Linked DNA regions of Homo sapiens: regions 1 and 3 are each linked to region 2. The links come from fine-mapping of genetic effects on plasma protein levels. Region 2 holds a variant in brackets. A gene starts in each other region. All regions are shown on their reverse strands. Region 1 holds the start of PLA2G1B (phospholipase A2 group IB). Region 2 holds the start of AQP12B (aquaporin 12B). Region 3 holds the start of CLPS (colipase).

The links. PIP is the chance, under the fine-mapping model, that this variant and not a neighbour inherited with it causes the effect. Protein levels are from antibody-based Olink assays in UK Biobank. Linkage for the fine-mapping came from a reference panel and not from the study's own genotypes, which makes the PIPs less certain.
Region 1: PLA2G1B starts here. The variant in region 2 is fine-mapped to the plasma level of the PLA2G1B protein (UK Biobank, PIP 0.98).
Region 3: it holds the start of CLPS, and the variant in region 2 is fine-mapped to the plasma level of the CLPS protein (UK Biobank, PIP above 0.99).

The regions. Positions count from the first base shown.
Region 1 is chr12:120,321,151-120,331,549 of GRCh38, reverse strand. It overlaps PLA2G1B (phospholipase A2 group IB), which reads left to right and starts at 3,771. Exons shown (of 4, transcript NM_000928.3): 1 at 3,771-3,830; 2 at 5,530-5,689; 3 at 6,489-6,616; 4 at 9,233-9,435. The coding sequence starts at 3,797. The coding sequence ends at 9,357. RefSeq lists an enhancer at 5,815-5,874.
Region 2 is chr2:240,678,037-240,688,435 of GRCh38, reverse strand. AQP12B (aquaporin 12B) reads left to right here and starts at 5,551. Exons shown (of 3, transcript NM_001102467.2): 1 at 5,551-6,205; 2 at 7,968-8,084. The coding sequence starts at 5,599. LOC285191 (a long non-coding RNA gene) reads right to left here and starts at 2,102. Exons shown (of 3, transcript NR_149021.1): 1 at 615-2,102; 2 at 1-20. The variant C/T (reference allele first, on the strand shown) is at 6,042.
Region 3 is chr6:35,790,179-35,800,577 of GRCh38, reverse strand. CLPS (colipase) reads left to right here and starts at 3,255. Exons shown (of 3, transcript NM_001832.4): 1 at 3,255-3,373; 2 at 4,725-4,847; 3 at 5,301-5,596. The coding sequence starts at 3,290. The coding sequence ends at 5,432. It also overlaps a transcript of CLPSL1 not described here.

The sequences.
Region 1 (10,399 bases), not on the chromosome of region 2:
GGCAGCCACTCGCCACATGTGTCTATGAGCCTTGAAATGTGGCCATTGTGACTGAGAAACTGAACTTTTAATGGTATTTCATTTTTATTTTTATTTTTTTTTTATTTATTTTGAGGCAGAGTCTCACTCTGTCACCCGGGCTGGAGTGCAGTGGCACTCGGCTCACTGCAAGCTCCGCCTCCCGGGTTCACGCCATTCTCCTGCCTCAGCCTCGGGAGTACCTGGGACAACAGGCACCCGCCACCACGCCCGGCTAATTTTTTGTATTTTTAGTAGAGATGGGGTTTCACCATGGTCTCGATCTCCTGACCTCAGGTGATCCACCCGCTTCGGCCTCCCGAAGTGCTGGGACTGCAGGCATGAGCCACCACGCCCGGCCCAGAAAAGAGATGATTAAACATAAAGCAGCCATGTGATGAAATGGCACTTTGCCTCTGTGGTCTTCCTCCCCCAAACCCATAACTGTAATCTAATTATGAGAAAAACACAGGACAATTCCAATAGAGAGCCAGGTGCAGTGGTTCACGCCTGTAATCCCAGCACTTTGGGAGGCTGAGGCGGGCAGATCATGAGGTCAAGAAATCAAGACCATCCTGGCCAACATGGTGAAACCCCGTCTCTACTAAAAATACAAAAATTAGCTGGACGCAGTGGTGTGCACCTGTAGTCCCAGCTACTCGGGAGGCTGAGGCAGGAGAATCATTTGAACCCGGGAGGCAGAGGTTGCAGTGAGCTGAGATCGCGCCACTGCACTCCAGCCTGGTGACAGAGTGAGACTCCGTCTCAAAAATAAATAAAAATAAATAAATAAAAATTAGCTGGGCGTGGTGGCACGTGCCTGTAATCCCAGCTACTCAGAGGCTGAGGCACAAGAATCACTTGAACCTGGGAGACAGAGATTGCAGTGAGCCGAGATTGTGCCACTGCACTCCAGCCTGGGCGACAGAGTGAGACTACAACAAACACACACACACACACCCACACACACACACACACAAATTCCAAGAGAGGGTCATCCTGACCAATACTCCTCAAAACTATCAAGGTTGCTGGGCACAGTGGCTCACGCCTGTGATCCCAATGCTTTGGGAGGCTTAGATGGGAGGATCACTTGAGGCCAGGAGTTCAAGACCAGCCTGGGCAACATAGGGAGACGCCGTGTCTCCAAAAATTTTTTTGAGACAGAGTCTCGCTGTGTCGCCCAGGCCGGAGTACAGTGGCGTGATCTCGGCTCACTGCAAACTCTGCCTCCTGGGTTCACGCCATTCTTCTGCCTCAGCCTCCCAAGTTGCTGAGATTACAGGCACCCGCCACCATGCCCAGCTTATTTTTTGTATCTTTAGTAGAGACAAGGTTTCACTGTGTTAGCCAGGATGGTCTCCATCACCTGACCTCGTGATCCGCCTGCCTCGGTCTCCCCAAGTGCTGGGATTACAGGTATGAGCCACCGTGCCTGGCCCAAAAAATTTTTTTAAATTAGCCAGGTGTGGTGACACATGTCTGTAGTCCCCACTAATCGGGAGGCTAAGGTGGGAGGATTGCTTGAGCCCAGGAGGTTGAGGCTGCAGTGAACTATGATCGTGTCACTGCACATCAGTCTGGGAAACAGAGCGACACTTTGTCTCAAAAAAAAAAAACAGATAAATAAATTAAATAACCAGGCCCTCCTTATCCCACAGGGTTGTTGTAGAGGTGACATAGGAACAGAAGAGCACCAAGTTAACCAATTATAAATCTATATAGAGAGAAGCAGATCAGAGGCCAGGCACAGTGGCTCATGCCTATAATCCCAGCATTTTGGGAGGCTGAGGAGTGGATCACCTGAGGTCAAGAGTTTGAGACCAGCCTGACCAACATGGTGAAACCTTGTCTCTACTAAAAATACAAAAATTATCCAGGCATGCTGGCAGGCGCCTGTAATTCCCAGCTACACGAGAGGCTGAGGCAGGAGAATCGCTTGAACCTGGGAGGCGGAGGTTGCAGTAAGCCGAGATCGTGCCATTGCACTCCAGCCTGGGCGACAAGAGCGAAACTCTGTCTCAAAAAAAAAAGAGAGAGAGAGAGAGAAGCAGATTAGCAGTTACCAGGGGCTGAGGGAGTGTGACTGCTAATGGGTACAGGGTTTCCTTCTGGAGTGATAAAAATGTTCTGGAACCCCATAGAGGTGATGGTTGCACAACACTGTGAAGGTACTAAATGCCCCCGAATTGTTTACTTAAACGTGGTTAATGTTATGTGAATTTCAGCTAAACAATGTTATGTAGATATTTGGCCGGGCGCGGTGGCTCACGCCTGTAATCCCAGCATTTTGGGAGGCCGAGGCAGGTGGATCACGAGGTCAGGAGATCGAGACCATCCTGGCTAATGCGGTGAAACCCCATCTCTACTAAAAATACAAAAAAAAAAATTAACCGGGCGTGGTGGTGGGTGCCTGTAGTCCCAGCTACTTGGGAGGCTGAGGCAGGAGAATGGCATGAACCTGGGAGGCAGAGCTTGCAGTGAGCCAAGATCGCGCCATTGCACTCCAGCCTAGGCAACAGAGCAAGACTCCGTCTCAAAAAATATATATAAATAAATAGATATGTGATGTGACAGGTTTTTTTTTGAGATGGAGTTTTGCTCTTGTTCCCTAGGCTGGAGTGCAATGGCGTGATCTCAGCTCACCGCAACCTCCGCCTCCAGGGTTCAAGCCATTCTCCTGCCTCGGCCTCCGGAGTAGCTGGGATTACAGGCATAAGCCACCATGCCTGGCTAATTTTGTGTTTTTAGTAGAGACAGGGTTATTCCATGTTGGTCAGGCTGGTCTCGAACTCTCCACCTCAGGTGATCTGCCAGCCTCAGCCTCCCAAAGTGCTGGGATTACAGGCATGAGCCACCGTGCCTGGCCTCTGATATGACAGTTCTAATGCCCTTTAGTATTCTATAATTCAGACTCAGGCCTTTGGAATCCAAAGCCCAGGTTTTTCTCACAAACCCACACTGCAGAGCGGAGTGGTGGAAAAAAATAAAACCTCTGCCTTGGAATCAGACAGATCTAAACTGGAGCCCTATTTTGTCATTTGCCAACTGTGTGACCTTGGGCAAGTTACCGCAACTCTCTGAACCTGTCTCTTTATCTGCAAGGTGCACGACTGATGGGACTATTCAACCAGACCCAGTGCACAGATTCAGGCACTTGATAAGACATTGAGGCTGCAGGCAGCGATCTTTTTTCTTTCTTTCTTTTTTTTTTTTTTTTTTTGAAATAGGGTCTCACTCTGCTGCAGAGGCTCAATCACTGTTCATTGCAGCCTTGACCTCCCTGGCTCAAGAGATCCTCCCATCTCAGCCTCCTGAGTTGCTGGGATCACAGGTGCAATCCACCACCACACCTGGTTAACATTTTTTTTTTTAGAGATGAGGTCTCTCTATGTTGCCCAGGCTGCACTTCCTTCTTGTCTCCCTTATCCCAGCGTCCGACTGAACTGACGGCTTTGCTTTCCCCAACCAGCCCGTGAAGCTGGGCTGAGTACAAAGTGGTGGGTATGAGGGTCAAGATTGTAAGATCTGAAAACTCCAGAAACCATCCCTTTGGTTAACAGTTGCTAAGGACAAATGCATAACATATTTTCCAGTGATCCCATGCTGGCAAATCGTCAGGGTCATTCCTGCAACAGACAGATTCAAGGCCAGCCCCAAACTCAGCCAAGAGCAAAGCAAACACTCCAGCCTTATCTGGGCAGGGTTGTGTGGAGACTGACTATAAGACTATACCTGAGACTGGTCATCTCAGTTCTTTTCTCACCTTGACTGCAAGATGAAACTCCTTGTGCTAGCTGTGCTGCTCACAGGTAGGCAAGTCTCCCCGGCTCCACCCGCCTTTCTCTCCCAAGTGAGCTAAGATCTCACTCCTCTGGAATGGGGGCCACAGGCCACAGCAAACAGGGATGGCCAGCCCCGCAGTCTCAATTCGAGGTTCCCAGTGGGGCTTAAGGGCTCCTCTATTGGGGTTCCCTCAAGGCTGGCACTTTTTCAACCTGCAAGTCTGAACTCAGATTGCCTGAGCTAAGAAAGCTTGCCTTTATTTTCTTTTTTCCAGACAGGGTCTTGCTCTATCACCCAGGCTGGAGTTCAGTGGCATGATCATAGCTCACCACAGCTTCCAACTCGTGGGCTCAAGTGATCCTCCCACCTTACTCAACTAAGTAGTTAGGCCAATCTCCCATTTATTTTATTTTATTTTAATTTTTATTTTTATTTTACTTTATTTTATTTTTGAGACGGGGCTCACTCTGTCGCCCAGGCTGGAGTGCGGTGGCGTGATCTCAGATCACTACAACCTCCATCTCCTGGGTTCAAATAATTCTCTTGCCTCAGCCTCTCAAGTAGCTGGGACTTGTAGCTCTCAAGTAGCTGGCACACACCACCATGCCCAGCTAATTTTTTGTGTGTTTTTTTTGGTAGAGACAGGTTTTCACCATGTTGGCCAGGCTGGGTGACCTCCCTTTTAGATTCTCCTCATCCTGCTCTATTCTTCCCCTTTCTAATGCAGTATCCAGTTTCCTTACTTATCACATTTATTATTATTCTTATTATTATTGAGACAGAGTCTTGCTTTGTCGCCAAGGCTGGAGTACAGTGGTGCGATCTCGGCTCACTGCAAGCTCCACCTGCTGGGTTCACGCCATTCTCCCGCCTCAGCCTCCCCAGTAGCTGGGACTAAAGGCGCCTGCCACCACGCCCCGCTAATTTTTTTGTATTTTTAATAAAGACGGGGTTTCATCGTGTTAGCCAGGATGGTCTCGATCTCATGACCTTGTGATCCGCCTGCCTCGGCCTCCCAAAGTGCTGGGATTACAGGCATGAGCCACCGTGCCCGGCCTTATCACATTTATTATTTATTGTTTTTCTCTCCCACTAGGTTGTAAGCTCCATGAGGTTAGAGATTATTATTATTATTATTATTATTATTATTATTATTATTATTATTATATCTGTTCACTGCTGTATCTCTAGCTCCTAGGACAGAGCCTGGCACATAGTAAGTGCTCAATAAATATTCACTGGATAAACAGTGCAGATAGTTTAAAACTATCTGACCTAGGGAGGCTGAGGCAGGAGAATGGCGTGAACCCGGGAAGCAGAGTTTGCAGTGAGCTGAAATCGTGTCACTGCACTCCAACCTGGGCAACAGAGCAAGACTCCATCTCAAAAAAAAAAAAAAAACTATCAGGCCTAGCTGGGTGGCACATGCCTGTAATCCTAGCTGAGGCGGTAGGGTCCCAGAAGAAGAAGAAGAAGAAAAAGAAGAAGATATATATATATATACACACACACAAAGATATAAACTTTATATATATAAAGTTTTCATTAAAAAAAAAAAAAAACCTCTACCCACTTTCACTTTACCAGGTTCCTGGGTCCAACGGTCTTCAGAGGAGGCAGCTGGCAGGGGTCAGGGAGGCAGCGTGGGACCCGAGGGAGCAGGAAGGCAGTGTGTCCCCGGGGTGCTGGCAGACCGATTTGAACTCTGGCTATGTCTTCTTGCAGTGGCCGCCGCCGACAGCGGCATCAGCCCTCGGGCCGTGTGGCAGTTCCGCAAAATGATCAAGTGCGTGATCCCGGGGAGTGACCCCTTCTTGGAATACAACAACTACGGCTGCTACTGTGGCTTGGGGGGCTCAGGCACCCCCGTGGATGAACTGGACAAGTAAGTGATCCGCCTGCAGGAAAATTGGAGTGCCTGCCGGGGGCGGGGTGGGGCACACGCCAAGGATCTCACGAGGCATACAAAGGGGACTTGCATATCTGCTAAGGATAACATATTTTCACCTCTTGTCAAATAAACAAATATGTTCCAAGAGGACCCTGTAGCGAACGCACCCCGTTAGAGATGGAAACAATGACCGACGTGCAAAACAGTGGGCGATGCTGCCCTCCAGTGGCAGAATGTAGCAACAGTAAACATCACAGCAACTATCCACGTGTCATTTTCTAGCAGTGGTTGTCACTGCACCTTCTGAATACAGGATTTTACTGTATTCTTGCAACCATGTTAAAAATCGCTTTCAGGCCAGGCGCGGTGGCTCATGCCTGTAATCCCAGCACTTTGGGAGGCCGAGGCGGGCGGATCACTTGAGGTCAGGAGTTCGAGACCAGCCTGGCCAACATGGTGAAACCCTGTCTCTACTAAAAAATACAAAAATTAGCCGGACATGGTGGCGAGCGCCTGTAACCCCAGCTACTTGGGAGACTGAGTTGGAGGTTTCAGTGAGCCAAGGTCGTGTCACTGCTGTCCAGCCTGGGTAACAGAGCAACTCTGTCTCAAAAAAAAAAAATGCTTTCAATAAATATATGATAAAAGGACTTATATTTTTTCAAGCCATAGGATCATTTCTCCTGAAGCATCTTGGCGAAGTCATCCCCACCTGTTCCTGAGAGTGGGCAGGTGAGGGCTGACCTATTGCTCTGCACTTACTCCTATCTCAGCTGTCCCTCCCACTTTCCAGGTGCTGCCAGACACATGACAACTGCTATGACCAGGCCAAGAAGCTGGACAGCTGTAAATTTCTGCTGGACAACCCGTACACCCACACCTATTCATACTCGTGCTCTGGCTCGGCAATCACCTGTAGCAGTAGGTTTATCCCTTCCTTGACCTATGAATTCTAGTTGGTTCTCAGTAGGCCGGGGGGAAATAATAGTAACAACAGCCATGATTTAGTGTTAATTTTCTTGGTTCTGGGCAGTGTCTCCTTTAATCCTCAGAACAACACTATGGGATAGGTACAATTATCCTCACTTAACAGATAAGAAAACTGAGGCTCAGAAGGCTGAGCTATTTGCCCAAGATCACACAGCTTGTAAGTGGTGACAGTTTGGGTTTTTTTTTGTTGTTGTTTAGAGACAGGGTCTTGCTCTGTCACCCAGGCATGAGCACAGTGGTGCAACCATAGGTCACTGCAGCCTCAACCTCCTGAGCTCAAGGGATCTGCTGACCTCAGCCTCCCAAGTAGCTGGGACTACGAGCGTGCACCACCACGCCTGGCTAATTAAAAAAATTTTTTTGTAGAGACTGGGTCTTACTACGTTGGCCAGGCTTGTCTTAAACTCCTGGCTTCAAGCAATCCTCCTACCTTGGCATCCCAAAGTGCTGGGATTACAGGGGTGAGCCACCATGTGCGGCTACTTATTTCTTTACATTCCATCTTTCCAATAGAATGTAAGATCCACAGAACAGGGATTACTGCCTATTTTCTTCCTTTCTTTTTTGAGACAGAGTCTCACTTCATCACCTCAACCTCCGTTCAGCTCACTGCAACCTCTGCCTCCCGGGTTCAAGCGATTCTCCTGCCTAAGCCTCCTGAGTAGCTGGAATTACAAGCGTGCACCACCATGCTTGGCTAATTTTTTGTATTTTTAGCAGAGATGGGGTTTTACCATGTTGCCCAGGCTGGTCTCAAACTCCTGACCTCAAGTGATCTGCCTGCCTCAGTCTCCCAAAGTGCTGGAATTATAGGCGTGAGTCACTGTGCCTGGCCGATTACTGTCTATTTTCTTTATTGCTATATCCCCAGATCTAGAGCAGTGTCTGACATATAGTAGGTGCTCAATAAATAATTGATGAATGCACAGCCTAGATATAAACTTTCTTTTTCTTTTTTTAAAACAATCTTGACAACTTTGCAGAATAAATACAATCTTGCATTCTGCTTTTTCACTTATCACCTTGTTATGACTTTTTCATATTGCCTCAAACCTTTATTGTTACTGTTTTTTCATTGTTACTATTTTAGTCACTGAATAATATGGCTTAATTTGCTTATACATCCTCCTGCTCCACTTTAGAAGGCCAAATTTACAAATCTGATGAAAGCTATGAACCCTCTCCCCAGAGAAATACACACACACACACACACTCACACACAGTTTTTTTTTAATGTTTGCAACTAAGACAAGAAACCTGCATTAGAGGATGTTTGTTCATATTAATTAAAAATAACTCAGTTGGGCACAGTGACTCAAGCCTGTAACCACAGTACTTTGGAAGTCCAAGGTGGGTGGATCACTTGAGGTGAGAAGTTCGAGACCAGCCTGGTCAATATGGTGAAACCCTATCTCTACTAAAAATACAAAAATTAGCTGGGTGTAGTGATGCATGCCTGTAGTCCCAGCTACTCGGGAGGCTGAGGCAAGAGAATTGCTTGAACCTGGGAGGCAGAGGTTGCAGTGAGCCGAGATCCCACCACTGCACTCCAGCCTGGGCGACACAGCGAGACTCTATCTCAAAAAAATAAATAAATAAAATAAAGGATCGGAGAGAAACAAAACTAATAAGATTCCTGAAGGTAAGCAGAGATACGTAAATTATATGTAATAAAGTTTAAATGCATTTTAACTGTAATCTTATTGTTTATTTTGGTTATAAAAGTAAACAAGCCAAAAGTAATGCAACTTCAAACTCTACATAAATATCTATTATGGAAAGTGGAAGGCATCTATAATCCTACTACCCAAAGATAACCAGTTACATATTCCTCCAGATTTTTGGGGCATACACTAGCTTTTTTTATTTGGGAAAATTTCCATGTGCAGGCATACCTAATTTTTCTAAATGTCTATGTAGTATTCCATTTAAGGATGTTCCATAATTTTTAAAATACATGCTTTAAAGTAGAGAAACTAGGTTGGGCATGGTGGCTCACGCCTGTATCCCAGCACTTTGGGAGGCCGAGGCAAATGGATCACTTGAGGTCCGGAGTTTGAGACCAGCCTGGACAACATGATGAAACACCCTCTCTAATAAAAATACAAAAATTAGCTGGGCATGGTGGCGAGCACCTGTAGTCCCAGCTACTCAGGAGTCTGAGGCAGGAGTATCACTTGAACTCAGGAGGCAGAAGTTGCAGTGAGCTGAGATCACGCCACTGCACTCCAGCCTAGGCGACAAAAGGGAAACTCCGTCTTAAAAACAAAACAAAACAAAAAAACACAGGATGCCCAGATAAATATGACTTTCAGATAAGCAATGGATAATTTTTTGGGGGGTATATGTCCCAAATATTGCATTCATTGTTTATCTGAAAGTCAAATTTAACTGGGCATCCTGATGTACTTGTATTCACTTAATCTGTCAGCCCTAAATGTGCATCAGTGGAATGGCTGCCAGCTTATTCCAGTTAATTCTTCTTGCCCCAGATTGTACAAAACAGGGTCCACCTTGGCTCAGTCCTCTCCTTTCATCCCTCTCCAGGCAAAAACAAAGAGTGTGAGGCCTTCATTTGCAACTGCGACCGCAACGCTGCCATCTGCTTTTCAAAAGCTCCATATAACAAGGCACACAAGAACCTGGACACCAAGAAGTATTGTCAGAGTTGAATATCACCTCTCAAAAGCATCACCTCTATCTGCCTCATCTCACACTGTACTCTCCAATAAAGCACCTTGTTGAAAGACCTCATGTTTGGATATTGTTTTATTCTCTGTCTATAAACTAGGTCTCTGCCTACTCTTTTATTTTTATGTATTTATTTTTTCTAGGTGGAGTCTTGCTCTGTGGCCCAGGCTGGAGTGCAGTGATGCCACCTTGCCTCACTGCAACCTCCGCCTCCCGGGCTCAAGCAATCCTCCCGCCTCATCCTCCCGAGTAGCTGGGACCATAGGCATGCACCACCATGCCTGGCTAATTTTTGTATTTTTTGTAGAGACAGAGTTTCGCCATGTTGCCCTGGCTGGTCTCAAACTCCTCAGCTTAAGTGATCTGCCTGGCTCGGCCTCGCAAAGTGTTGGGATTACATGCATGAGCCGCCGCGCCTGGCTACTCTGCCTAGTCTTTTGTGAGTATCATTTCTTCCAGCCTTGGAAGCTAAGTTGAATTAGAAAGACACTTCCAGGAAGCAAGCAAGCACCTTGAAACCTGAGTAATGATTAACGATCACCATCTACTGATTATTTACTCTGTACCAGGACTGTGTGTCCATAAATCCTCTTGACAGCCCTGTGAGGTATTGGCGCTATTAGCAAATCTTATTTTCCTAAGCTGAGGCTCAATAGGAGAGGTCACTTTTCCAATGCTATCATCTAGTAAGCAGCAGAGAAGGAATTTGAACTCGGCAAGTCTAACAACAGAAAACACATGCTGAACCACTGCCCTTCCCTGCCTGAAGTGGTAGGCTTTAGTTTGAGCCAGACCTTGCCCCCGTCTCATGATTCTGCCTCCATTTTCAACTGTATTAAACCATTTTTCTACAATGACTTTCTTTTTTTTTTTTTTTTTTGAGATGGAGTCTCGCTCTGTCGCCCAGGCTGGAGTGCAGTGCTGCAATCTCGGCTCACTGCAAGCTCTGCCTCCCAGGTTCACGCCATTCTCCTGCCTCAGCTTCCCGAGTAGCTGGGTTTACAGGCTCCTGCCACCACGCCC
Region 2 (10,399 bases):
CAGAGTGGTCAGTCTGCGCCCTGGAACAAAGATCAAAGCCAGGGTGAGGCTGGTCCAGAGACGTCCCCAGGCCCTTCCAGGGTCAGCTTCCTTCACCCACAGGCTCCTGGTTCCCCTGGAGGGACCAAGCAAAGCCAACATAGCAGGGAGCCTGCACTCTGCCAAGCCTAGGGGTGCCCTGGCTTCTCCCCTTGCCTGTGTGTGTGGGTGTCTGAGGATCCCAGGGTGGAGATGGGGAGGGACGCGGTGTGGGAGGCCCAGTATTGGGCAGCACCGTTGGAGGGGACTGAGCTCGTCGGGGGGTGACCAGCCCTCAAGGCTTTGGCTGGCTGAGGGGTGAAGGGCCTGTGCCTTGTGCTCCAAGCCTTTCCCGCCTGGACAAAGAGACCCCTGGGCCCGCAACAGCTTCCACAGGAGCCTGGCCCTGCCCCTCCTCGGGTGGCCTGTGGCCACAGGGACCCTTCTCCCACCCTTTTCCCAGGCTCCCTGTGTCCTCACAGCCAGCCCCCACATCTGCAGAGCCCTTCTCTGAAATGCCAGACAGGAAGACACACCACTGAACCTGGAAGCCCCAGCTGGCAGAAAGGGGGTTGGGCACCTCAGGCAGGCCTCACCTGCATGCCCACGCCATGCTGCCCACGGCAGGGCCAGGCCACTCCAGGCCCCTCTGTCCTGCAGGCGAAAAGCCAGGAGTGGAGCTGCACCAGGGTTGGGTCCTGAGCAAGGTGAGGCCCCAGCCCCATCCCCACTCCCCCCAGGGCAGGCCTAGGGTGCGGTCCTGAGGGCGCCTGGGGCTGGCCTGCCCGTGTGCACCCCCCACCCACAGAAAGGGCTGGAAAGAAGTCCCACCTGTAGACGGAGGCCAGAGGAGGGGACAGCCTTGTCCTTGCTCCCCACCCTGCCTGTCTGCACGGGAGCCCACGGTGGGGCCCAGGAGGCACCTCCCTCAGGCCGGCTGTCCCTCCCCACCTGGGGCCCATCAGCTGGGGGTACTGCCAGGTGCTGGAACAGGGCCTGGGGCCTGCTACAACCAAACCTCTAGGCCCCCATATGTGAGTCAGGGTTCTCCAGAGAAACAGAGCTGCTGGGCGATACGTTTAGGAGGAGATTTATTACAGGAATCGGCTCCTTGATCACGGAGGCTGAGAAGTCCCACAAACCGCTGTCCCTAAGCCAGTGAACCCGAACAGCGGGTGGCGTCATTCAGTCCAAGCCCAAACCGCTGGTGTCAGTCCCAGAGCGCAAGGCCTGGGACCCAGAAACTCCTGTGTCTGCGGGCAGGAGGAGATGGACGCCCCAGCCCAAGAAGACAGAGGAACCTCCGGAGTCTGGGTCTGCAATGGGCTGGGTGCTACCCACCCTCATAGCTGAGGCCAGATCTGCCTTCCTCAGCTCACTGACAAATTACCATCTCTTGTGTGACCTGAGAGTGCACAAACACTTCCTGGCAGGGAGGAAAAAGCAGTGACAAGCACATTTAAAAATAATCAATTTGGCTTTATCCGAAGGAAAATGCTCTAGTTATCAAAAGACACTACAAAGAAAATGACCAGGAAGTCTGGGGAGATACTGCAAAACAAATCCCACACAAAAATCTTGTATCCAGAATATAGAAAGAATGATCATAAATCAATAAAAAGATACACAGCCCCACTTTAAAAATGAACAGAAGAGATTGGAATGGACAGACAGTTCATGACTGATGGTTTCACACTTTTTGTCATGAGGGAAATGCAAGTTTAAGCCACGAACAGATAGAACCACACAATCAGCAGAAGAGGTAGTTGTGAAATCTTGACACCACCGACTTTTAAAGACACCAAAACTGTCACACACGACTGGTGAGAGTTAAGATACTACAGCCACTTCGGGAAAGGTTTGGATAGTCCCTTATAACGTTTTCACTCACCTGCCATGTGAGAACTAAAAATGAAATCCTGAGCTCCCGCACCAACAAGCTGAATGGACCCTTCTTGGCCAAGGGGATTCCAGAGAAATCTGAAAAACATGACAAAAATCCCGCCATGACAGAGTGGGAGGTGGGACCCGCCGCGTGACAGCCCCTCCGTCTGTGGTTGGGACACCACACTCACCAGCATGAAGGTGAACATAAAGAGGAGACTGACAAAACAGGTTCCTTGTGGTGATAAGACAGCAAATGATCAACAAGACCTGAGGCCCTGCCTGGCAGGGGTGGAGTCACGCACAAGACACTGAAAAGCAGAAACCAGGGGCTGCCGGCCAGGAGGGTTCTTTTTCTCTAGCAGCTAAACCAGCGCTGGCCACTAGGAAAGCCACACTCACTCAGGTGCAGCTCACCCCCTCCAGATGCTGACACACAGCCCCACTCTTCTGTGCCACCAGCCCTAAGTTTGATTGGCCAAGAGGCTGATTTCTGTAATTCTGACTGGGGACCACCCAGCAGGGACTGGTTCTGGCTGGTTTTCAGGGGCCGTGCAACGAGTGCCTTGGTGTTGCTGCTTCACCTTTCCAGGCAAGGGCCTCACAGGAACACATTTAGATATCACGTGTCCACCCCCAAGGAAACTTGAGACGCATGTCACATGCATGTTTGTTCAGTATGCATGAGTGAGGACCCCTTCCTGAATGTTCACGGCTCCTCCAGCAACCCATGGAGTGTGTGTCCTTAGCCGACCTGTTCAGCATGAAGCTCCTGCCCCAACCCCCTCCTTCCAGGTGCCCGGCCTGGGCTCTGCCAGAGGCTGAGGTGCCCAGGGTGTCAGGACGGCCACCCTGAAGGCCCTACCCCTTTATAGGAAATAAAGTCTTCTTTCCAAATTTATAGATGTGGGATTTGTTCAGTGGACATAGCTCACCCGGGGCATTTTAGGAATTTACCCAAAAGACATAAAAGTCTGCGTTTACAGAAAGAATAGACCAAAATGCTAACAGCAGCTTTATTCATAGTAGTAAGAACTAAAATCCACCCACATGGGCATCATCAGAAAAACGGCCAAGCTGTGGCTCTTCATGACATGGCTTCAAGTCAGCAATGAAAAGGAACAAAACTCTCAACCATGTTCAAGGGATATGAACCCTCAGGGACAGGGCCCTCTCTCAAAACAGGCAGGTCCAACCCACGTGTAGCTCGTGGTCCCATTCCTCTGCAGGCTCCGGACAGAAAGCGGGAAGCTAGAATCACATAACCCACAAGAGTGGACCCTCCCGCTGGGGAAGGGCGGGGAGGACCGGGAACCCACGAGAGTGGACCCTCCTGCTGGGGAAGTTCAGGGAGGACCAGGAACCCACAAGAGTGGACCCTCCCTCTGGGGAAGTTCAGGGAGGACTGGGAACCCACAAGAGTGGACCCTCCCGCTGCGGAAGGGCAGGGAGGACCAGAGGACTCGGGGATGATGAAGACGTTCCAGCTCCTGACGCTGGCGAGACTCACGCTGCTGACACCTGTCACAGTGCACGGGCTCACACTTAACTTTTGTGTGTTTCACGTTGTTTTCATATTCTGGTGTAAGTTTGTTTTATTTCTCTAGAAAGAAGCAAGGGCTGTGAATGGTGATTAAACGTTCCTTCTCAGGTTTGCCTGTGCGTGGGGTAGAGGTGGACCACGCAGACCCTCCCTGCTGTGAGCTCCGTGGAGGGTCAATGCAGATGCAGGGAGACTGTGGGGCCCGGTATCCGTGACGCTGGACAAGGGGGTTCCCGTTCTGGAAGGAGGAGTCAAGGTCTCCAGTGGTGTCGGATTAGAATATGAGGAATCCGTCTGAGCTCATTCTCCACAGGATCCCACAAGGGAAAACCTGGCTTTTCCCTGTGCAGAGGCCAGGCTTCTATGGCTTCCAGAAGGTTCCTCTGCTACTCTGAGAGGGCAGGGCACTTGCACAGGGAACAGGCAACCGAAGGCAGCCACAGCCCTACTGGAACCGGGGTTTCTCTGCCTTCTGGGGAGAGGTCAGTGGACGGGTTGGGGAGGGGGACAGGCAATCTTCCTGTGGGAGTCGAAGAGCCTGGGGCCTCCCCTCCTCCTTGGAGGCGACCAGACACCTTCCCTAACTGGAGGAAATTCTGAACCCCAGAACTGGAAAGGTCAAAACTGAAACAAAATCGCCCCTTGTTTTGCGAGCTGCTGCCTCCTCTGTGCCCTCAGGCAGGTCCATTCCCTCCTGGTCTCAGTCTCCCCAGCTGTGCCAGGGGGACGCCAGGTGGGACCCAACTGGGTTTCCAAAAACAAAAGGAAATCTAAGTCTCAGAGAAAGGGGAGCTTTGGGCCAGGTTGGGGGAAGGGCCTCGGGTGCTGGAGTCAGTCCTGGGGGAGAGGGAAAGGGCTGTGAGGGGGACATCCAGCAGGTCCCACGTGCTGTACCCCGTATGGCCATGGCTGGTGTCCCAGTGCTTGGGTGCAGACCCAGTGGACAGGATCCATGCTGCAGGGTGACAGACGGCCCATCGCAGGGCCCACAGGGCTCATGTCCCATCCCCTCGGGGTCCGGAGCTCTGGATGGTCCCAGCCCAGCTATCTCCCACTGCAGACGCCCAGGCTCAGCGCCTTCTCCACGCAGCTGTGGGTAGCTGGCCCCTCTGCAGGAAATTCAAGTGAATGGCGATGGCACTTTCGGTTTTCATCTCTGGAAAGCGCTTTCGGGGCGGGAAGGTGGGAGGGACGTTGATGTGAGGCGTGGTCCTGAGTTCTCCTGAGGGCAGGTGAGGGCAGTACAGGGCAGGGAATGTGGGGCTGGGGCAAGGGCTGCTGCCAACTCTTGACCAGAGGGGACACAGAGCAGGTGGAGGAGGGTCTCACCCAGACCAGACCCCAGGCAGGTCAACAAGCTTGGGGGTCCCTGCTGAGGTGGGGACACAGTGGAGGTGCAGGGAGCCAAGAATGAGAGGACCTTCCCATAGGCAGGGACGCAGCCACGTGCAGGGGGCCTGGCCTAGCTGGGGACACAGCCAGGAGCAGGGAGCAGGGGGCACTCACTCAAGGGAAGACATCTACAGGTGCAGGCAGGAGGGAGCTTCACCTAGGCTGGGTCAAAGAACAGGTGCAGGGGCCATGAGGGGCCTCCCAGGCGGACACACAGTGCAGGTTCAGTGGGGGTCTCACCCCAGTGGGGACACAGTGCAGGTGCAATAAGCCTGGGGCCCTCACTGAGATGGGGACACAGCATCCATGCAGGGAGGCGGAAATGGGGGCCCTTGTTCAGGCAGGGACCTGGAGGGGGTGCAGGATCTGGGAGACCCTGACTCAAGAGGGGCCAGGTGCAGGGAGCAGGTATTGGGGTCCGGTACCCAAGAGCGCAGGTAGGAGGAGCGGAGCTCGGATGGAGGCTCTGAAGAGCTGGGCCAGTCTCCAGCGCCCAGGGCTGGCCGAGCGTGGCCAGTGGATCCGGGTGTGTCACATGACGGGATGATGCCAGGCTGTGGGGCAGGGCCCCTGTGGCCATCCTGGCTGTGCACCTGGGTGGCAGCCAGTGGGGCGGGAGCTGGGGCTGCAGCTGTGGTGTTCCCAGAGGCCCAGGTGCCCTCTCCCACACGCCTGGGCCCTCTGGGTTGTGGGAACCGGCCAGCTCCTGCTCTGTCCCCTCAGGTGTCCTGCAGGCACAGCATCTCGGGGGGCCCAGGCCGATGGCAGGTCTTAACGTGTCCCTCTCCTTCTTCTTTGCCACCTTCACCCTCTGTGAGGCAGCCAGGCGGGCCTCCAAGGCCCTGCTCCCAGTGGGCGCCTATGAAGTCTTCGCCCGGGAGGCGGTGGGCGCGGTGCAGCTCGGGGCCTGCTTCCTGGAGATGAGGACGCTGGTCGAGCTCGGGCCCTGGGCTGGGGACTTTGGGCCTGACCTGCTGCTCACCCTGCTCTTCCTGCTCTTCCTGGCGCACGGGGTCACCTTGGACGGGGCCTCGGCCAACCCCACCGTGTCCCTGCAGGAGTTCCTCATGGCCGAGGAGTCTCTGCCTGGCACGCTGCTGAAGCTGGCGGCACAGGGGCTGGGCATGCAGGCCGCCTGCACCCTGACGCGCCTCTGCTGGGCCTGGGAGCTCAGTGACCTGCACCTGCTGCAGAGCCTCATGGC[C/T]CAGAGCTGCAGCTCGGCCCTGCGCACATCCGTGCCCCACGGGGCGCTTGTGGAGGCCGCCTGCGCCTTTTGTTTCCATCTGACCCTCCTGCACCTGCGGCACAGTCCTCCCGCCTACAGCGGGCCCGCTGTGGCTCTGTTGGTCACCGTCACGGCCTACACGGGTGAGCACTGCTTCCCCTTCCCCTGGGCCCCTGAGGACCTCTCACCTGTGTGGCCTCCATGCACACTCAGGCCCGTTTGCACCCAGGATAGGGGGCTGCTGGCCCGGGTGGCCAACAAACCCACAAGAAGAGGCGGTGATTTCCTGGGATCTGGCGGGTAGACGAGGGCCTGCGCTGGACATGGGGTGCGGTGGAGCAGCCTGTCCCCTGCCAGGGCCATCCTGCCCACTGCACCTCTCCCCAGTCCCAGCTATTCTTGGTCCTCCCAGAAGTTCTGCCTCTGGGGTAGTAGGGACAGCCGAGGCAGACGATTCAAGGCCCAGCCCAGTTTCCTGGTCTGGTGTGGGAGTCCCTGCACCCTCTATCACCCCTTCCAGAGCGACAGGTCCTGTCTCACCTGCCCCAGTTGGCCTCCCTGGCCTCCTACTGACACCTGCATCCTGCGATCTCTGCCTGCACCTGGACCAACCGTGGCACCCAGCTCTCATGGTCCCATCACCCCCTTGTGAGCTCCCTCCACTCAGACCCTCCGTCTGATCCAGTCCCCCATGTCTGCTTTCCCCTCCGAGCGCTAGGCTCCACCACCACGAAAGCCTTTGCTCAGCAAGTTCCCAGGACAGGTGTCCACAGCGCTGGGGCTGCAGGGAGAGCCAGGGGAGCCGGCTCGTGCTCCAGGCACCACAGGAAGGGCTGCAGGGAGAATGGTGCCAGGTCTCCTTCCGGGGGTCCGAGGTCCTAATCAGGACAGGACCAGCACTTAGGTCCATGGCACTGCCCACGACCCAGCACTGGGCAGACACCACGGAACCTGGACCACAAAGGCCACAGGAAGGTGCCACCAGAGCCCCGTACAGTTGGGGAAACTGAGGCACGGGTGAGCGGGAGCTCTGCAGGGACACGGCTCTGTGGCAGATTGCCCGGGCCTCTGTCCTGGGTGGCACCGGAGAGCTCCCGTCAAGGGTCCTGCCTCCACGAGGCACAGGGCGCCTGGTCTCAGGGACGGAGCTGCCCATCCTCAGGGTCCTGGTTTACACCTGGGCGGCCGCAGACTCCATGTCCCTGTGGTCCCTGCCCTCCGCTAGGCCCACTCCCTGCTCTTCCGTGCCCAGAGGCAGGTCCCCGGTATTGGTGGATTCTGTTATTTGGGGTGGTCACCCAGGCCTGGGGCTGCAGGACAGCGGCCCGGCTGCCGCCGCCTTCCCTTGTCTCACATCGCACAGCCATGTCGTCTTCTCTCCTCTGCTGCTGCTCCTTTATTTCTGAGATCTCTCTCTGTCTCTCCTCTCTCTCTCTGTCTCTCCTCTCTCTCTCTGTCTCTCCTCTCTCTCTCTGTCTCTCCTCTCTCTCTGTCTCCCTGTCTCTCTCTGTGTCTTTTTGTCTCTCTCTCACTATCTGTCTCTCTTAGTGTCTCTCTCCATCTCTCTCTGTCCGTCTTTCTCGAAGGCCACATCCCACAGGGTGGGGTGCTGGAGGGCAGCATGGGCGGGGCACGGGATCCCGGTGAGATGTCGCGAGGGTGTTGGACGGCCCTGGGGGGCCCCCAAGCTGCTGCCCCTGACCCAGACCTTGGCTGACCCGGCCTTGCTGCATCGTGTGTCCATCGGTGCGGGGGACCAGGCGGGGCTTCAGGAGCCGAGAGCAGCTCCCAGGCCTGCACACAGTGGGGCTCTCGGTGTGGATTCGGTGGCGGGGATCAGGTCCTGGCCTGCAGAGGGGCGTCAGGCAGGGCTGGGGACCAGGGCTGTCTGTGCTCTGCCCACAGCCGGGCCCTTCACGTCTGCCTTCTTCAACCCTGCCCTGGCCGCCTCTGTGACCTTTGCCTGCTCGGGACACACCTTACTGGAGTACGTGCAGGTGTACTGGCTGGGCCCTCTGACAGGTAAGGGCAGGGGCAGGGTGGGGTCCCTAGGGCTGCTGGGGCCCACAGAGCATCCTGGCACGTGGGGTCCTGCAGGGTGGAGGTGAGGGTGCCTGGTCAGTGCTCCTGGGGAGGTCTCTGCAGTGGGCATGGTTTGGGGGGTAGGGGCTGTGACGGCATGTCTCACTGTGGACACCGTCCCGGTGCCGAGCAAGCTGCAGCCAGGTAAGGAGGCCACAGGCTGGGGAAAGGCCAACCTTGCAAGGGGTGCTGGGCACACGGGGGATGGTGTCTGCAGTGGGGCTCCATGCACCTGGGGTTCCCGTCCCAGGTGGCATCTCCACACACCCAGAGCCAGACTCCGCCGAGGGGGGCTCATTCTGGTGTCCCTAAAGCCTCAGGAGGCAGAGAGCCCCGCTTAGATGATATAGGGTGCCATCGTGCACTTATAGGGCTGTGAGCATGGGGCTGGAGCAGCCAGGCCCTTTGCATCCTGGTGGGGCAGACCCGGGACTCGCTGATGCACACAGGGGACCCCAGAGTTCCCCCACAGTGTGTGCCCCTCCTTTCTTATATCCTGGATCCAAGCAGAGGAGCAGCATGGGGAGGTCATGGAGCCCCCTCTTGGACCTAGATCTGGGGATTCTGGCCCCTGGCTTCAGAGGCCCAGGTGGAGCCCACACCTTCTCCTGCACCTGCTCTCAGACACTCGGCTCCACCTCACTGAGGTACCAGAAGGGCAGCTGGGTTCCTATGGAATTCTGGAAGCTTTTTTCAGCTTCTGCTGGCTCTACACTGGGGAGGTCTCAGGGGCAATGCCTCAGCCTCCCCTTGGGGGGAAAGACAGGAGCTGGGGGTCTCTCAGGCACCTGGCCCTGCGATGGTGACACTGACGTCATCGTGATTTGTCGCCATGGTTCTGATGTGGTCACAGTCTCTCAGGCATGTGCAGGGTCCTAGGAAGCATACGAAGTGCATCAGGAACCCCCTCCTGCCCCCGTTGCCGAGGCAGCACTGCCCTCTGCTAGGAACAGCTCCGTGTTGGCCTCTCTGTCCCCACACACTGGGCCTGCAGGGCTTCTCCGAGACTCTTCAGTTCAGGTATCAACCCTGGGCTGTCTCCTGGGATGTGGGGGGCGGATGTTCTTTCCTTGCCTCCCCACGCTCCTCCTGCGGATCCTTCACTCCGGGTGGGTCGGCCTCTTCCTCCTGATCAGCTCCAGAGCCCCCTCTAGTTCCCTGGCATGGAAACACGGCCCGGGTGAGCTGTGGTGGCCCCGGAGGCCTCTCCGCTCCTGCACAGGCCTTGCTTCCTGCGGGTGACGAGGTCCTGGACTCTCTCCTGCCCAGGCTTCTGGGTGCTTTCCTTAGTTCAGCACCAGTGCTCTGTGTGGGCAGCGTCTCCCCCGAGGATCCGCAGCTCCGGGTTACCCGCAGGCGTCCATCTCCGGTATGGTGCTGCCCTTCACTGATCCTGGTTGTATTTCTGTTTCCTGCTTTCCTCATCGCCTCCTGTTTCGGTTGATTCCTTCTTTTTGCTGGTGCCCGTCTCACAGTAGCTTCCTGAGAACGGGGACCTGGCAGGTACACTTCAGACCTCCTGTGTCTGAAATAGTGTCCTGGTTCTGACCTGCACTTGAGTGTCGGTGAGGCCTGGGCAGGGTTCCGGGTGGGAGCTCAGTTTCGTCCTGAGTTTCTCAGGCCCCAACCATGGCCTGTGGTGGCTTCACGGGCTACAAGGCAAAGGACGCAAACGAAGAGGCTTCACGTGACAGGGTTGTATGCTCAGCCAGCTCTGGAGGCTGGAGTCTGAGCTGGCAGCACTGACAGGGTCAGCTCTCCTCGGAGGCTGCTGGGGAGGAGCCTCCTGCCTCTTCCGGGCTCCGGGGGCCTCTGGCACCCCCGGTGTCCCCGGGCTTGGAGACGCAGCACTCCCATGTCTGCCGGTTCCCCTGGCCGCCTCCTCTGTGTCATTGTCTGTTCTCTTCATATAGGGACACCAGTCATCGAATTGGAGGTTCACTCTACTCAAGTATGACGTCACCGTGATTTCACTGATTTTATGTCCCAGGCCGTATTCTAACAAGGGCACATCCTGTGTTCTGGGAAGGGCGTGTCGCTGGGGAAATACTCTTCACCCGGCTGCAACCTCTCACTGTAGAACTGCCTCTGTGGAGAAGCCCAAAGGGCATTTGCGGCTTCTAGGAGCCAAGTAGGAGGAGGCTGGGATCCGTGTTTCAGGCGGGACTCCAGGCTTGGGCGGGCCTGATACTCGAGTCCACATGCCCCCTCTAGAGAGGAACCTGTCTCCTGCCAGGGCCAGGGAGGGGGGCACT
Region 3 (10,399 bases), not on the chromosome of region 2:
ACATAAACTTTGTCAGGTAGAGGTGCCATAAAAGCTACGGAGTGCTCAAAAGGGGGTCATTTTCTTTGTTTTCTCCTCATTCTGAAACCACCTTTGCAAAATTATGACTGAGACAGTGAAAGAGATCTAACTTAAGTGACTCCATCTTGTTTCTAACCTCCAAGCTGTCCTTGTTCATTCCTAGGCGTAAGCTGAACTAACTTTGGGAGAAACTTAGTTTATAGTTTAAACAAAGACAGTAACAGCCCTTTCCCAAAGCTGACTTCATTCTTGCCTGGGGACTAGATTGCCTTTGTAGGACTAACATTAGCCACAAGATTAGAAATTATGGTTTAGGAGTCACGCAGCTGGAGGCTACAAGATCCTGATCCTCCCTAAACTACTCCTAAGATCAGTGCTTGAGATATTTTGCTGACCCTGCACTTGATGGATCAGCTGGCCCCACCCAGATCAATAAACTGGCTCATCTGATCTTGTGGCCCTCACCCAGTAATTGACTGGGTGCACGAAGACAGCTCTGAGTCCCTATGATTTCATCTCTGACCAATCATCACCCCTGGCTCACTGGCTTCCCCCCACCCACCAAGTTATCTTCAAAAACTCTGCTCCCTGCTGGGCATGGTAGCTCATGCCTGTAATCCCAGCACTTTGGGAGACTGAGGCAGGTGGATCACTTGAGGTCAGGAGTTCAAGACCAGCCTGACCAACATGGTGAAACCCCATATCTACTAAAAATACAAAATTAGCCGAGCATGGTGGCACATGCCTGTAATCCCAGCTACTCGAGAGGCCGAGGCAGGAGAATCACTTGAACCCAGGAGGCGGAGGTTGCAGTGAGCCAAGATCATGCCATTGCACTCCAACCTGGGCAACAAGAGCGAAACTCTGTCTCAACAGCAACAACAACTCTAAAACTCTAGTCTCCTGCACCTGCACAGCCGGCTCTGCATGAAATACTCTTTCTCCACTGCAATTCCCCTGTCTTGATGAATCGGCTCTATCTAGGTAGTGGGCAAGGTGAACCCCTTCAGTGGTTACATCCTGAGGGCTGTGTCACAGGCCATGGTTGCTCATATTTGGCTCAGAATAAATCTATTCAAATATTGTACAGAGTTTGACTCTTTTCATTGACAGGTACTTAATTTTTGCTTTCCTTTTAGAAGCACATACAGTGTCAAAGTTCTCTTTGCTACACTTCATTTGTAATGGAAAAAACTCCAGCCTTTTTTCTTTGCAAGCTTGGCTGAGACCAACTAGGGACAGGGCTGATGGTTTTCACAGCTCCCTTCATGGAGAGAAATCACTCCTCTGATTCCTTTGCCAGTCTCCATCTTGACTTGTGAGAAGGGAATAGTGATTCCCTTCTCTGTGGCTCACCTCACAGAGGTCCTGGGGGTGGGGAGCAGGTAGAGAAAAGAGAAGGAAGGATCAGAGTGAACTCATAGGAAAAAGTGCTTTCAAACATTGAGTTCTATAAAAGAGAGGGGGGATAGTGTTCTTTCATCAATGGTATTTCTGCATCGCTGGAACCAAATTGGTTTTTCTCATTTTGAGAGTCTCCTGGTTGTTCCTCCAGCTATTTCTCTACATTCCACACCCCAGGGATGTAAAGGTGAGAGGAAGGGGGTCATATTACATGGCTGGGCACCCACCATGTGCCAGGCACTTCCGAAGGTGTTCCACGTGCATTGTCTTAATCATGACCTCAGGAAGTAGGAGGCGTTATCCCCCTAAGATAAATAAGGAAAGTGAGGTTCAGGGAGCTTCACTTTCAATAATGTGTCTGAGGCCACGTAGCTCCAGTAAATGCTGAATTTTGAAGCCAGCTTGGTCTGGATCAAAGCTGTGCTTGAGGCTGGGCACAGTGGCTCACACCTGTAATCCCAACACTTTAGGAGGCCGAGGTGGGAAGATTGCTTGAGCCCACGAGTTTTAGACCTGGGAGGCTTAGGGGGAAGATTGCTTGATCTCAGGAGGTGGAGGCTGCAGTGAGCCAAGATGGCACAACTGCACTTCGGCCTAGGTGACAGAGTGAGACCTTGTCTCAAAAAATTAAATTAAATTAAATTAAAAGCTGTGCTTGAGGCCTGGGCCTCTCAGTGGAGCTGTCTTCTACCTCCTGGGATGGAGAGGGGAAGGGCAGGGGCCTCTGGCTGCCATGACTAGTCCTTCAGGAAAAGCTGCTCTGTTCCCATGCCTGAGCAAACTCAGGCAGCTGTGCCCTTCCCAGCTTCCTGAGGCCCCTGCTCCATCTGAGGCTCATGAGACCTCTTCATTCTCAGCCAGGACTAGCGACTGCTCACGCGCGCACGTGGCCTTGGGTAGGGGGCAGCGTGAGTGGAAACCTTAACTAAAGGGGTGAGTATCTGATGCTGGAATTGCAGATAGTAAGTGAGGTAGAAAGGAAAGGGGAGAGAGGCATTTAGGAAGGGCCTCCTAAGGGCCCTTGAGTCAGGCCTGCAGGCAGCCCCTGGTGTGAGGGCAGGGGGAGGGTGCCAAAGTGAAAGCACACACACCCTGGCCTGCTGGGGGTTGCAGAACTGTCAGCCCCAGGGATCTGGGCATGGCCTGGAATCCCCCGAGGAGACTGAAGGAAGGTTGAGGGGTGGGAGGCTAGGATCCTCGTCCCTGGAGTCTGACACTGCTAGACACCTGGGCTTGGGTGGGCCAAAGGCAAGGCCTGACTATAGTGAGGCAGAGAGGCCCCAAGTACACAGAATGTAAGCAGGCACTCACACCATAGGTGCCTCTCTTGCCTTGGATTCGTCCAGGCACTGCCCAGGAGCTCAAGACACAAGGGCAGCCACCCTTACCCACTGCTTATGTGGCATATGGGAATATACAATATAAATATATTCTTATAATTGTATATAATAATGTTTATATATATGTAACACATAAATGTGTATTAATTCAACCCTCACAACTCTTTAAATTATCCTTAGTTGACAGATAAGATGAAAGGCAGAATAGTTGGAACAGATAGTAAGTTTGCCTCACTAATAACTTGTACACAGTCCATACTCTTAACCACGATGCAACACAATTATCACCAACACACACACACACACACACACACACACACACACACACACGAAAAAGGCCACCAGGTACTCACCCAGTTTCCTTATCAGGAACCGCCCCACAGCAGATTGGCCACAGCTGTGCCTCTGCCCACGGCCAGCCCTGTGGGATGCAGGTGGATCTCGTGAGGTCAGGGCCCCTTTTATAGCCCCATCACCACAGCTGGCTCTGTCTCCCGCCACCCACACCAGCTGTCCCACTCACCATGGAGAAGATCCTGATCCTCCTGCTTGTCGCCCTCTCTGTGGCCTATGCAGCTCCTGGCCCCCGGGGGATCATTATCAACCTGGTAAGAGGGTCTTCAGGGGAGGCGCCTCCTGAGTCCCCAGATGAAGACTTCCTAAGCTTGGACCTTGACCTCTGATGTCTCCACCTGGACTGGCAGGGGCTGGGAGGAGTGGCATCTTGCATCCCTCTGTTTACTTCCATGTCCTGTCCTATGCCTCTTCCCAGAGGCCACAGGAAAGGCTGATCAGCCCCTCTCCAGCTCCAACTGGAGCATGCTCAGAGCAGCAGCTCAACCTGGCTATGAGGGACCTTTTTTTTCTTTTTTTTCTTTTTGAAACGGAGTCTTGCTCTGTCACCAGGCTGGAGTGTAGTGGCACAATCTCGGCTCACTGCAATCTCTGCTTCCCGGGTTCAAATGATTCTCCTGCCTCAGCCTCCCAAGAAGCTGGGATTACAGGTGCCTGCCATAACGCTCAGCTATTTTTTGTATTTTTAGTAGAAATAGGGTTTCACCATGTTGCCCAGGCTAGTCTCAAACTCCTGACCTCGTGATCCGCCCACCTCGGCCTCCCAAAGTGCTGGGATTACAGGCATGAGCCACCTCACCTGGCCCTACGAGGGAGCTTTGTAAAAATCCAGAGCCCTGGGCTTCCATCCTGAGAAAATGCTTTGCGCCAATCATTCCAGCTTCTGACTTATGGAGATGCCTCGGAGATGTTTACTCATTCTGTTCTCATAATAACCACTGAGGGAGGTGTTTTCAGAGTCAGCCCTGTCTTCAGACAGAGAGAGGGTGAGCAACCTGCCTGAGGTCACATAGCTGGAAAGTGGTTCAGCTGGGGCCCCACCACTGCCCCACACCACCTCTCCACCATGGGTCTTGGCTGGGAAAGCCCTTCCAGAACGTCCATGCGGTTGAAAGGTTCTGAACTCTCTTAACTTGGGGCCATGGCTGGACTTGGAGGTCCAGGACCCTTGGAGATTATAGATCAGATCTGTTGGGGGAGGAAGGAGTCTTGCAGGGAGATGCAATCTTCACCGCCTCCTTAAAGAGGTGTGGGACCCAGAGTGGTTTGGAGAACTTGTCTAGGGGCCTTGTGTGCACATTCCAAATGGGAACACTGAGGCTTGGGAGGCAGTGACTTGCCCAGAGTCACACAGGAGGTTGGTAGCACAGCCGGTACTAGAACCCAGGGGTCCTGACCCTCTGTGCAAGTCTGCTTCTCTGTCACCGCATGCCCACTTCTCACGTGGGTGGGGGGCACAGAGGCCACCAGACCCAGGGGATGGACTCCTTCACACACATCCCTACCAGGGGAGACACTGTTAGTGGTAGTGTGTGGTGGGTACAGGTCTGAATGGAGAAGGGACCTGAGGGAGTGGGGCCTGGGCTGACTGGCTGCTCCTGGCAGGAGAACGGTGAGCTCTGCATGAATAGTGCCCAGTGTAAGAGCAATTGCTGCCAGCATTCAAGTGCGCTGGGCCTGGCCCGCTGCACATCCATGGCCAGCGAGAACAGCGAGTGCTCTGTCAAGGTGGGTGCCTGAGGACTTGGCGTGGGTGGGGGAGAATGGGGAGTAGGGCCCTGAACACTTGTGAGTGGGATCAGGGAGGGGGGTCAGCCTGGACACTGAATGTTGAGGAGACGAGAGGGAGGTCGACAGGTGTCAAAGCACTTTCCCATCCCATCATCTCTCTTGACCCTCCCGAGTGACCAGTGAGATGGGTGGGGGTGGGGATTTGTTATCCCCATTTCATGGCTGGGTAAATAGAGGCTCCCCAGAGAGATCAAGCTAGTAAGAGCAAATGAGCCAGAGCAGAGGTCAGAGCTGGGGTCTCCAGGGCCCACGGCACCCCTGGGGAGGCAGGTGGGAGAGGCACTCCCCGAAAACACAGGCTGGCCTACTGGTTCTCTAGGTCAGGCAGGGGACAAGTGATGTCCAAAGTATCTCCCCATAGCCTTGACTCCATTGGCTGTGTCTCTGCAGACGCTCTATGGGATTTACTACAAGTGTCCCTGTGAGCGTGGCCTGACCTGTGAGGGAGACAAGACCATCGTGGGCTCCATCACCAACACCAACTTTGGCATCTGCCATGACGCTGGACGCTCCAAGCAGTGAGACTGCCCACCCACTCCCACACCTAGCCCAGAATGCTGTAGGCCACTAGGCGCAGGGGCATCTCTCCCCTGCTCCAGCGCATCTCCCGGGCTGGCCACCTCCTTGACCAGCATATCTGTTTTCTGATTGCGCTCTTCACAATTAAAGGCCTCCTGCAAACCTTTCCCAGTCTCCTGCATATTCTTTCTGACTCAGCATCTTCTCTGAAGTTGCATCAGGCCTTTGGTCCACCAGGGCAGGCTTCAGGCAGGTCAGAAGAACAAGGGATGGGTCTGGGGCTGAAGAAGTTGTGGCCAAACAGATTGGAGACTGAAGACAAAGCTGTGAAGGAGACCCAGCCAGCCTAGGAAACCCTCCATTTCTGGGGAGAAGTCACACCTACCTGGGATGCCCTCCTTGTCCCTCCGGTTCTCAAAGAGACAAGCGGGCACATGTGCATGCGCGCGCACATACACACACACACACACACACACACACACACACACTTGTGGGTAAGGAGTTTTAATGGCCCATGTTCGTCACCCTGCATCAGAGGCATCAGAATCCTGGGCTCTCACCTCTTTTCTGGACACAATTCTCAAATATGACAGCTAGCTGACACAACTCATGTGTTAAGGGGTCAGACCACTCTCAATTGCTATGAGCTTACTCTCTGCCAGCAAATGCTCACAAGGATCCCAGGAGGGAGAATTTCTCATCTCCACTTTATAGATAGAGACCAAGTTTCAGAGAGGAGCTTGCCCAATGTCACATAATCAGAAAATGTTGGCACTCTACCATCTAACTCCACTGCCCTGCTTCTATGATTCCTTTTTTTTTTTTTTTCTGAAACAGAGTCTCTCTCTGTTGCCCAGACTGGAGTGCAGCGGAGTGATCTCTTGGCTCACTGCAACCTCCACCTCCCAGGTTCAAGCGATTCTCCTGCCCCAGCCTCCCCTAGTAGCTGGGATTACAGGCGCCTACCACCACGCCCGGCTAATTTTTGTGTTTTTAGTAGAGACGGGGTTTCATCGTGTTGGCCAGGCTGGTCTCAAACTCCTGACCCCAGGTGATCCACCACCTCAGCCTCCCAAAGTGCTGGGATTACAGGTATGAGCCACCGTGCCCGGCCTTATGATTCCTTTTTCTTTCCCAATTATTCGCATTAAGAAAAATGGGTGGAAACTGCAAGGAATTTAATTTTGCCTTAATATAAAAATTGTATATCCCCTGGAGCCATCAAACATGAGTTACCTTAGGCAGTACTGAGGTGCCCATCATCCAGGTACGCAGGTGGAAGCTCACTGACCCCTCGGTGGAGATGCTAGAGAGGAGATTCCCACAGAGAGTGAGGGACAGTGAACTGAATGAAACTTCGATGTCGTCCCAGCCCCAGGATCTTGCAGTTCTGTGATCAATGAATCCTCCTGTAACCACAGGCTTATGAGTTAGGATTGCATTCAACTGTGAGTAGCAGAAAAACCCAAGTAATTATGGCTGAAGCAAATAGGAACGTATATTTCTCATGAATCCAAAGCAAAGACACAGGAAGTGCTGGCATTCTTTTGGTGGCTGGTAGCTCTTGACCTTCTCTTCAAGGTTGCCACATGCCTTAGCAGCAGCTCATGACTTCACGTTCTCACCGTATTCGAAGGCAGGAAGCATGGAGTAGCTGGCAGCTGGGAAGGCGGGAGAAGGAGCAGAGAGTTTCTTCTTGCATACCCTTTTTTTTTTTTTTTTTGAGACAGAGTTTTGCTCTTGTTGCCCAAGCCAGAGTGCAGTGGCACGATCTCGGCTCCCTGCAACTTCTGCCTCCTGGGTTCATGCGATTCTCCTGCTTCAGCCTCCCAAGTAGCTGGGACTACAGGCGCCTGCCACCACGCCTGGCTGATTTTTTGCATTTTTAGTAGAGACAGGGTTTCACCATGTTGGCCAGGCTGATCTTGAATTCCTTACCTCAGGTGATCCACCTGCCTCGGCCTCCCAAAGTGCTGGGATTACAGGCATGAACCATGGCACCTGGACCATACCCTCTTCTTATCTTTCCTCAAATCCTCAAGGCCGACTTCTCTTCATATCTCAGTGGCTAGAACTAGGTTATCTGACTACTTCTAGCTGCAAGGGACGCTGGGAAAGCAAAGGGAATAAGATCCTTCTCCTGGGGCCAGGTTCATTGATGCCCAAACAATATTGGGTTTCAGTTGGCAGGGAAGGGGGCAATGGCTATTAGGAAACCAGGTAATGGTGTCTGCCACATATGAATTATGTGCTCAACAAGAGGAGCTTTCAATACCTTAACCCAGGAGGGGTCTCAGGCCCTGAGCAGGGCTGAGTCACGCTTCTTGGTGCCACATTCGGTCCTGGAGATCTGCATTCATGTCCCCTTCATGTGTTCACTGAATGACCACAGTGTGCCTGGCACCGTGTTTTGGACTGTGGGGGGCATAAGGAAAATGTCCCTGGTCTTCAAAAGTGAGTAGGGAGTTGGGCTTTGGGCTCTGCAGAAGCAAGTGACCAAGACCCCAACCATTATGTAGCTTCCATTTTATTTCCAACGGCCAGTGCTCCTGTAGACTCTCAATTTCTGCTGCTTTTCAGCATCACACGCCTACACAGCAGAGGCACAGTCTAACCACAGCTCAAGGAACCAGATGGTCCCCACTTACAATGGTTTGACTGACAATTTTTCAACTTTATGATGGTGCAAAAGCAATATGCATTCAGTAGAACATCAATAAATTACATGAGATATATTCGACACTTTATTCTAAAATAGGCTTTGTGTTATTTTTCCCAGCTAATGTAAGCATTCTGATTGAGCACATTTAAGGTAGGCTAAGCTAAGCTATGATATTCAGTAGGTTAGGTGTATTAAATACTTTTTTTTTTTTTTGAGACAGGGTCTCACTCTGTGACCCAGGCTGGAATGCAGTGGCATGATCATGGCTCACTACAGCCTTGACATCCTGGGCTCAAGTGATCCTCCCACCTCAGTTCCCCAAGTGCTAGAACTATAGGCGTGTGCCACCATGCCTGGCTAATTTATTTATTTATTTATTTATTTATTTTTGTGGCGGGGGGAAGATGGAGTCTGTCTCTGTTGCCCAGAGTGGAGTGCAATAGTGCGATCTCGGCTCACTGCAGCCTCTGCCTCCCAGGTTCAAGCAATTCTCCTGAATCAGCCTCCCGAGTAGCTGGGACTACAGGCACATGCCACCACGTCCAGCTAATTTATTTATTTATTTATTTATTTGTATTTTTAGTAGAGATGGGGTTTCACCATGTTGCCCAGGCTGGTTGCGAACTCCTGAGCTCAGGCAATCTGCCCACCTAGGCCTCCGAAAGTGCTAGGATTATAGGTGTGAGCCTCCATGCCCGGAGTTAATTTTTATATTTTTAGTGGAGATGGGGTTTCACCATGATGCCCACACTGGTCTTAAACTCCTAGGCTCAAGCAATCCGCCCACCTCAACCTCCTAAAGTGCTGGGATTACAGGCACAAGCCACCACACCTGCCCATTAAATGTATTTTCTTTTTCTTTTTCTTTTTTTTTTTTTGGAGACAGAGTCTAACTCTGTCACCCAGGCCGGAATGCAATGGCACGATCTCGGCTCGCTGCAACCTCCGCCTCCCGGGTTCAAGTGATTCTCCTGCCTCAGCCTCCCGAGTAGCTGGGATTACAGGCGTGCCCTCCACGCCCAGCTAATTTTTGTATTTTTAGTAGAGACGGGGTTTCACCATGTTGGTCAGGCTGGTCTCGAACTCCTGACCTTGTGATCCGCCTGCCTCAGCCTCCCAAAGTGCTAGGATTACAGGCGTGAGCCCCCGTGCCCGGCCTATTAAACGTATTTTCAACTTACGATATTTTCAACTTAAACAATGTGTTTATCAGGATGTAGCCCCATCGTAAGTCAAGGAGCATCTGTACTTTATTCCCTACAAATCTCTCTGGATTCTGACAACGGCAGCCTCTACCAATGACCACTTTTCCCATAGGGCAGCGGAATCCCCATGGCTTGTGAAGGGGTCTAGAGAATGCCACTGAAGCATAAAAATTATTCTGAGCAGAAGGCATTTGAAAATGGGCCTTTTTCTTTTCTTTCTTTCTTTTTTTTTTTTTTGAGACAGAGTCTTGCTCTGTCACCCAGGCTGGAATGCAGTGGTGCGACCATGGCTCACTGCAGCCTCAACCTCCTGGTGCTCAAGTGATCCTCCTGCCTCAGCCTCCTAAGTAGCTAGGACTACACGTGCGTGCCACCACCGGCTATGTTGCTGTTGTTGTTTGTTTTCAGACACAGGGTTTCGCAATGCTGCCCAGGCTGGATGAGAATAGGCTCTTTTCTGAACTCCTTTGTCTGCCTAAATGCAGAGCCCTGCAAAAGAGCTCCATTGTCATAAATCCCCCTCCCAGGAGTTTCTCAAAACCAGGGAAAATTGACTTATTGCTGGAGGGGAGAATAGTTGGCACCACACCTAAACAGTCAGGTCACGAAACTATAATAGCTCCCATCTTTTCTCCTAAGGGCCCATTCATCTTTCCTAAAAATTACTTTTCTATAAGTGTCCTTTCTCCTCCTCCCCTTCTTCTATTGAGATGGTACATAACCCGCAAATTCTAACTTCCTTCTAGAGTCACACTCTTCCATGAACTTCCCTACATTCTGAATAAAAATCGGTCATTTCTCTTTTATCGGTTTAATTCTCAGGCCTTCAAGTACTGAACCTAAGAGGATAGAGGAAAAGTTTTCCTCCCCCAACACTTGGAACCAGTTTAGTCATGTCAGCAACGTATCTTCCCCAACTCCCTTTCTTTTTTGTTTCTTTTTTTTCCTTATTAGGCTAAAAACGTTTATTAAAAAAATTAACAACTTTGTTTTAAAGCATTTTATATTCCTGGATGAAAATATCCAATATTGGAAAAAAGTGAAATTTCAGCCGGGCACAGTGGCTCATGCCTGTAATCCCAGCATTTTGAGAGGCTGAGGCA